Linked DNA regions of Homo sapiens: region 1 is linked to region 2. The links come from fine-mapping of genetic effects on gene expression. Tissue or cell type: whole blood. Region 2 holds a variant in brackets; the other region holds the start of a gene. All regions are shown on one strand. Distances are from middle to middle.

What was found. PIP is the estimated chance that this variant, and not a neighbour inherited with it, causes the effect.
Region 1: it holds the start of TRIB2, and the variant in region 2 is fine-mapped to the expression of TRIB2 in whole blood (TOPMed, PIP 0.94).

Annotation. Positions count from the first base shown.
Region 1 is chr2:12,714,817-12,719,003 of GRCh38, reverse strand. It overlaps TRIB2 (tribbles pseudokinase 2), which reads right to left and starts at 2,068. Exons shown (of 3, transcript NM_021643.4): 1 at 427-2,068. The coding sequence starts at 696. LOC124905974 (a long non-coding RNA gene) reads left to right here and starts at 2,246. Exons shown (of 2, transcript XR_007086222.1): 1 at 2,246-4,187. RefSeq lists enhancers at 1-239, 1,601-1,670, 1,519-2,158 and silencers at 2,111-2,170, 2,261-2,480.
Region 2 is chr2:11,884,720-11,888,906 of GRCh38, reverse strand. No RefSeq gene overlaps it. Among named protein-coding and RNA genes, the nearest start is that of MIR4262, 50 kb to the right of the region's middle. The variant G/A (reference allele first, on the strand shown) is at 1,786.

The DNA of each region.
Region 1 (4,187 bases), 830 kb before region 2:
CTAAGAACAATGGCTGCGAAAAGAACGAAGTCATCAGTCTTAAAATTACCGGGGGATTCCCTAATCCTTGTTGGAAGGGGAGGGGGCTAGACACAGGAAGAAATCCCCCCCGGGCAGCGGGACCCGGCCTCGCGCAGAGAGCTCCTGGAGCCTTCGGTGCACGCGTGTCCGTGGCCCCCGCGCAGTCCCGCCGCCCTCTCCTCCCCGGGCTCTCCCCGAAACGCCCCCACTGCCGCCCGCCCCATTGTCTGAAACGGTCTAAAAACTTCGCAACTTACCGAACCTGAGCAAATAAATAAATAAACCCATTTAATAAGGCCACGGTAATTATCCCGCGAATCTCCCTCTCCCAGACTCGAGGGCCTGGCGCCCTCCCGCTCCCTCGGGCCCCTTCCAAAGACAAAAAGCAACCCACTGGCCCTTTACCTTGCACACCAGCTCCTCTCCGCTGTGCAGATGCACGGCACGAAAAACGTGGTCTCCCTCCAGAGGTTCCAACAATAAGTATTTCCCGATACAAGAAACGCAATGCGACAAGTTCGGAGTCTCGGGCGGGCTCGGGGAGCCGAGGTTCGGGCTGAAACTCTGGCTGGGCTCCGCGGACCTTATAGACGACAACTCTTCGAAATCCTGGGTTTTGTTCCGCGATCTCCCATATCTCGCTATTGTGATGGGGGTAGACCTGTGTATGTTCATGAGTGTGAGGATCGCACACGACAAACAAAAAAAAACCCGCTGGAGAGATGAGTCGCTGGCGAGTGCGGCTGCAGGCGCCTCGGTGCCACTGATTTTAAAAGGGAGCGAGAGGGGAGGGGACAGAAGAGGGGCTGCGTGGAGAAAGAGTTAGAAGCCCCCAAATGGGCGCCGCCGGATACCTCGTCTGCTCCGAGCCCGGCTCCCGGGGGTCCTCGGTCGGCAGGCAACTCGGGTCTTTTTGTTACCCCAAAGCAGTCGGCGATGTGCAGAATCGCCGCACTTTTAGTTACTCTGTGTGTGTGTCCCCGGCGTGGATCTGGATGAGTACCCGGGCTGCTAAGGTGCGGAGCTGCAGCGCCAGGGCTCCCGACGCGACCCCCAGGCCGGCTTCCGAATCGCAGACGGGGCGGAGGAGCCCGCGGTAGTTTGTGCAGTCTTCGGGGAGCTCACGGCGGCGACTCAGTCCCAACGCGTTAGAAGCCAAACAAAAAGAGAAAGGAAACAAGCACGGGTCTACCGGCTGGCGACGCACGGCAGCCAGAATCCGCGCTGCACCCCCTTTTTTTGGTGGAAAGGGTGGGGGGCGTGTAAGGGGGGGGTGCGGGAGAGGGCAGTTACCTACGTTTTAACTGTAGATGGCGTCTGAGGCTTTTCCAAGATCGCGAGCTCTCCAAAAATTAAACAAACAAACAAAAAAAAGAAAAATTGCAAGGGAGCATTTAACTTGGTGCGGTCAGCGCTGCCAACAAAAGATTGCAAAAGCTGGGCACAGAGTTGCGGCGCGGGCTGGGCGCAGGTACCGCGACAAAGCCCTGGGCTCGGCCCGCCGCGCGGAGGTCAGCACAGGCTCATGCTGTCGCCGCTCGCTCGCGCCCCAGGTCTTCCTCCGAATGCAGCCAGACGTGCAGGAGAGAACGAGGACAGATCGGCGGTCTCCGATTTCGCCGGCACGAGCTTGCGGGGGTCCTGCGGGCGCTGCAAGGGGAGCTGCGTCCCTGGCCCTTCCAACGCGCGGCGTTCCTTTGCCCCTTTCCCGCTGGAGAACTGGATCTCGTCCTGGAATAATTTGCAATCACCCCGTCTCCCCCTACCCCGAGACCAAATTGCCCGGTGGGGTTTGTTTTGGAGAAAATTGACGGCTTGTCTCCTCCTTCTTTGATTTCTTGCTTGCCCCCCCCAGAGAAAAGAGGGGACCGTGTATTTAAAAATTAAAGGGGACGGCCGACGGTGCCCGAGGCCAATCCCCGCGCTCAGCACGCCCGCATCCCCCGGCGAGGCGGTATTAATAGTTACTTACGTGGCCGGGGATCTCGGAGCGAGCGGGGCCGTGAGTGCGCGTGTGCGCGCGCGCGCCTCGCTCGCGCTCGGTCTCCCCATTCAATGTCACCGACACATTTCCACGGAGCCTCCGCCCCCCCCCCGCCGCCCCCGCGACTGGCTCAGCCCAGAGCCGGCCCCGCCCCGCCCCCGCCCGGGCCCCCCTCATTGCGCCGGGCGCCCATCAATCAGCCCCGCCGCTGCCAGTCCTCGGGCGGCTCCCCGCGCCGCTGCCATTGCAGCTCCGTGCCGGGGGCGCCAGCACCGGCCTCGCAGCTCCCTCGCCCGGCCGGGGAGGTAAACAAAGTGAAATATCCTTCCGCGGCCCGGGGCCCCGGGCGCAGCACCCTGGGTGTCGGCTGCGAGCCGGCTGCGAGCCCAGCTGCGGGCGGCTGGGCCGGGGTTACCAGCAGCGACTCCCGAGCCGTTCCCCACACGCTGCTCCCGCAGCGCCCGCTCCAGCTCTTCGTAGCTCGTTCATGTTCCTGGCGCTTTTCCCCAGAAAGCCAGGCACGCTCTGAGCATTGGGCCCCCAGGCTCAGATGTGGCCCTGAATGAGGAGCTCTGTTTTGGAAGAATGCGCTTTCATCGGTATTGCTGCCTGGAGTTTCGAGAATTCGTTTCATGGTATCTCTCCGACATCCTCCTCTCCATTTAAAAGGAAATCCATTGCTTCCTTTTAGTTGGTGTCACCGCTTGCCCCCGATCCCCACATCCTGGGCTTGTATTTCTAGTGTTTTCAGCAGAAGAGGAACTGAAGGCATCTTTTGATTCAGGTCAAATTTAATCACTAATTCTTCCCTTCCCAGTGCATTGCCTGGAGGGCCTTGGAGGCCAAGCTAGACAAAACTTTGCACCCACACCTCCAGGGAGCGCTGTTGGGTCCTATCCAGGGTGCTGGGCGTCCTGAGTCCTCTTCTGTTAGCCAGGTGAAGGCTGCAGTTTCACGCCCCACTCCACCCCCCATTTCGCCACCCCCCCCGAATTATTCGTAACTTCCTTGGGAGATTCCAGTCCGCGGGCTTGGACAGGAACACCGGAAGCAAGGGGCTTGAACTCAGGCAGAGGCTTCAAACGCCAGCCTTGATCTAAGATATCCTGGTGAATGAGAAGCGATCTAGTAGAGGACAAACTTAAAAAAAAAAATCCCAAGGAACTGAGAAAGGGGAGTTGGGACGACTCCTGGAGCCCTCTGAGCTTTTGCATGCGTGTAGTATATTTTCCACTGGAGGAGGGGACTAAATTATTGTCCACTGTAGGACACTTTCAGTAAAAGAAGGGAGCTATTTATAATTATGTCCACTTGGGACAACAGTCACTCTAATGATCAGGAGTCCTGGGAATGTGGCCAGAGATGGAGAGGACATTGACTATAAAGCTTCCACCCAGCAGCACAGAGTTAAAAGGAAGGTTAAGAAGTGGACCCGTGCCTTCCAGCACCTCTCACCATCCTACTCCCCACAAACCTGCCTAGGATTCAGTCCCAGATCCCAGCAGAATAGATCTATTTCCCTAGGCGATCACCAGGACCACTGACCGAGCAGGGTCCCCTAATCCAGTCTTACCCCAGGAAGACACTTGGCCTGTGTTAGGAACAGTCTCGAAGCAACCCCTGCTGTTGAGTCAGAAAGAGAGGTGCCTAGCCTCCTCTATGCAGTGGCCAAGAGAGCTTTGTAATAATTAGGGGTTGGGACACCTGTGTGCTAGCCCTGGCTGGGTCTCTGATTTCAAATGGAAATTGGGTGAAGACCTTGTTTTTTCTCCCTAGATCCCTGTTTCTTCATCTGTAAGATGAGAAGCATAATACCCGCCCTGCTCACCTCATGTGGTTGCTTTAGAATTATATTTTCAATTCCAGGAAATCTATGAAGGCTTACTATAAGCCGGGCTCTGTGCTGAGTGTTAGGGATCCAATATGAGTAAGATCTGGTCTCTGCCACCCAAGAGCGCAGGGTCTAGCCCGGCAGAAAGACTGGGAAACAAATAATGTCATTGTGTAACAATGTGGCAATTAGAATATCAAGGCCTCAAGGGAGCATGGAGGAGGGAATGACTTTTCCTGAACGTCAGGGAGTTTTCCCAGAAAATGTGATTTTTATTACCTTGAACTAATCCAGAGCAAATATTTATTGAAACCTACTATGTGCCAGACACTGGATATGAAGATACAATGA
Region 2 (4,187 bases):
ATTTTCTTTCTTACCTTATTTTTGGAATCTGTTTTTTCCCCATAAAGGTAATGAAATTTCAATCAAAATATAATGGAATATCATGGGAGACTTAAAAAAAATCTTCTAAAATTTCCTATAGGAAAAAACATATAAGACTAAATGAGCCATTATGGGGAAGGGAGCAGAAAACAGTAGAAATGAAAGGAGAGAAGCCATGCAATAAAAGAAATTAAAATGAATTTTAAAACTAAGTTAATAAGAACAGAAAGAGTGTTTGCCTGTTTCCAAGATAGGCAGCCAAATCAAGGGGGCAGTATAATTTTGCTTATTCTTCAAAAGATATTTTGGGAGGGAAAAGGTTTCCACCAATGGCAATCAAACTCCTAGCTAACCATTTAGGAAAAAAATATCACACTAGAACCCTGGCTTACATTTTATAACCTGAACTCTAGATGATCTTTAAAGATATCATTTTTTTAATATGTAAAATTATTTAAATAAGAGTTATAAATATTTATATAATATTGATAAATAAGAGGACTTTCAAAGTATTTCACCAAAGACAAAAAGCATGAAGCCAAAATCTCAAAAATTTAACTCTATGTAAATCACCCAGAAAAGTAGGTACCCACAGCAATGGGAAAAGATACAAATAAAAAATTTACCAAACACACACACACACACACACACACACACACACAGGGAGGGATGTGGGGGGGGGGGGGCAAGAAAAAATAAAGCAAATACAAATGCCCAATTAACTTATAAAAAACTTTTAACCTCACTATAATCAAATGACTGTAAATTAAAGAAAACTCTTGATATGTTCTCAGCTTTTATCACTTGCTTCATAGACTATTTTTATGCATTTGTGAGATGGAAAAAGAGAGACTTGAACGGAGAGACTTGTAAGACCAGATGTTGGCAGAACATGAGGGAGATGGGTGAAGAGAGGACATAACATTAACTAGAATAACATAACTGTGCCTAACAATAAAAATACAACAGATGGCCAGGTGCGGTGGCTCACACCTGTAATCCCAGCACTTTGGGAGGCCGAGGTGGGTGGATCACAAGATCAGAAGATGGAGACCATCCCAGCCAACATGGTGAAACCCCATCTCTACTAAAAATACAAAAATTAGCTGGGTGTAGTGGTGTGTGCCTGTAATTCCAGCTGCTCAGGAGGCTGAGACAGGAGAATCACTTGAACCAGGGAGTTGGAGGTTGCAGTGAGCTGAGATCATGCAATGCACTCCAGCATAGAGACAGAGTGAGACTCCGTCTTAAAAAAAAAAAAAAAAAAAAAAAAAAAAAAACAGGGGGTGGAGCCAAGATGGCCAAATAGGAACAGCTCCAGTCTACAGCTCCCAGCATCAGTGACGCAGAAGATGGGTGATTTCTGCATTTCCAATTGAGGTACTGGGTTCATCTCACTGGGGAGTGCCAGACAGTGGGCGCAGGACAGTGGGTACAGCACACTGTGCATGAGCCGAAGCAGGGCAAGGCATTGCCTCACCCGGGAAGCGCAAGGGGTCAGGGAATTCTCTTTCCTAGTCAAAGAAAGGGGTGACAGATGGCACCTGGAAAATTGGGTCACTCCCACCCTAATACTGCGTCTTTCCAACAGGCTTAACAAACGACACACCAGGAGATTATACCCCACACCTGGCTCGGAGGGTCCTATGCCCACGGAGCCTCACTCATTGCTAGCACAGCAGTCTGAGATCAAACTGCAAGGCGGCAGCAAGGCTGAGGGAGGGGCGCCTGCCATTGCTCAGGCTTGAGTAGGTAAACAAAGCC[G/A]GGAAGCTCGAACTGGGTGGAGCCCACCACAGCTCAAGGAGGCCTGCCTGCCTCTGTAGGCTCCACCTCTGGGGGAAGGGCGCAGACAAACAAAAGACAGCAATAACCTCTGCAGACTTAAATGTCCCTGTCTGACAGCTTTGAAGAGAGTAGTGGTTCTCCCAGCACACAGCTTGAGATCTGAGAATGGGCAGACTGCCTCCTCAAGTGGGTCCCTGACCCCCAAGTAGCCTAACTGGGAGGCACCCCCCAGTAAGGGCGGACTGACACCTCACACAGTTGGGTACTCCTCTGAGACAAAACTTCCAGAGGAACAATCAGGCAGCAGCATTTGCGGTTCACCAATATCCGCTGTTCTGCAGCCACTGCTGCTGATACCCAGGCAAACAGGGTCTGGAGTGGACCTCCAGTAAACTCCAACAGACCTGCAGCTGAGGGTCCTGACTGTTAGAAGGAAAACTAACAAACAGAAAGGACATACACACCAAAAACCCATCTGTACATCACCATCATCAAAGACTAAAGGTAGATAAAACCACAAAGATGGGGAAAAAAACAAAGCAGAAAAACCAGAAACTCTAAAAATCAGAGCACCTCTCCACCTCCAAAGGAACGCAGCTCCTCCCCAGCAATGGAACAAAGCTGGACGGAGAATGACTTTGACGAGTTGAGACAGGAAGGCTTCAGAAGATCAAACTACTCTGAGCTAAAGGAGGAAGTTCGAACCAATGGCAAAGAAGTTAAAAACTTTGAAAAAAAAATAGATGAATGGATAACTAGAATAACCAATGCAGAGAAGTCCTTAAAGGACCTGATGGAGCTGAAAACCATGGCACGAGAACTACGTGACTAATGCACAAGCCTCAGTAACCAATGCGATCAACTGGAAGAAAGGGTATCAGCGATGGAAGACAAAATGAATGAAATGAAGCATGAAGAGAAGTTTAGAGAAAAAAGAATAAAAAGAAATGAACAAAGCCTCCAAGAAATATGGGACTATGTGAAAAGACCAAATCTACATCTAAATGGTGTACCTGAAAGTGATGGGGAGAATGGAACCAAGTTGGAAAACACTCTGCAGGATATTATCCAGGAGAACTTCCCCAATCTAGCAAGGCAGGCCAACATTCAAATTCAGGAAATACAGAGAACGCCAAAAAGATACTCCTTGAGAAGAGCAACTCCAAGCCACATGACTGTCAGATTCATCAAAGTTGAAATGAAGGAAAAAATGTTAAGGACAGCCAGAGAGAAAGGTTGGGTTACCCACAAAGGGAAGCCCATCAGACTAACAGCTGATCTCTCTGCAGAAACTCTACAAGCCAGAAGAGAGTGGGGGTCAATATTCAACATTCTTAAAGAAAACAGTTTTCAACCCAGAATTTCATATCCAGCCAAACTAAGCTTCATAAGTGAAGGAGAAATAAAATACTTTACAGACAAGCAAATGCTGAGAGATTTTGTCACCACCAGAGCTGCCCTAAAAGAGCTCCTGAAGGAAGCACTAAACATGGAAAGGAACAACCGGCACCAGCCACTGCAAAAACTTGCCAAATTGTAAAGACCATCAAGGCTAGGAAGAAACTGCATCAACTAACGAGCAAAATAACCAGCTAACATCATAATGACAGGATCAAATTCACATATAACAATACTAACCTTAAATGTAAATGGGCTAAACGCTCCAATTAAAAGGCACAGACTGGCAAATTGGATAAAGAGCCAAGACCCATCAGTGTGCTATATTCAGGAAACTCATCTCACGTGCAGAGACACACACAGGCTCAAAATAAAGGGATGGAGGAAGATCTACCAAGCAAATGGAAAACAAAAAAAGGCAGGGGTTGCAATCCTAGTCTCTGATAAAACAGACATTAAACCAACAAAGATCAAAAGAGACAAAGAAGGCCATTACATAATGGTAAAGGGATCAATTCAACAAGAAGAACTAACTATCCTAAATATATATGCACCCAATACAGGAGCACCCAGATTCATAAAGCAAGTCCTTAGTGACTTACAAAGAGACTTAGACTCCCACACAATAATAATGGGAGACTTTAACATCCCACTGTCAACATTAGACAGATCAATGAGACAGAAAGTTAATAAGGATATCCAGGAATTGAACTCAGCTCTGCACCAAGCGGACCTAATAGACATCTACAGAACTCTCCACCCCAAATCAACAGAATATACATTCTTTTCAGCACCACACCTATTCCAAAATTGACCACATAGTTGGAAGTAAAGCACTCCTCATCAAATGTAAAAGAACACAAATTATAACAAACTGTCTCTCAGACCACAGTGCAATCAAACTAGAACTCAGGATTAAGAAACTCACTCAAAACCTCTCAACTACATGGAAACTGAACAACCTGCTCCTGAATGACTACTGG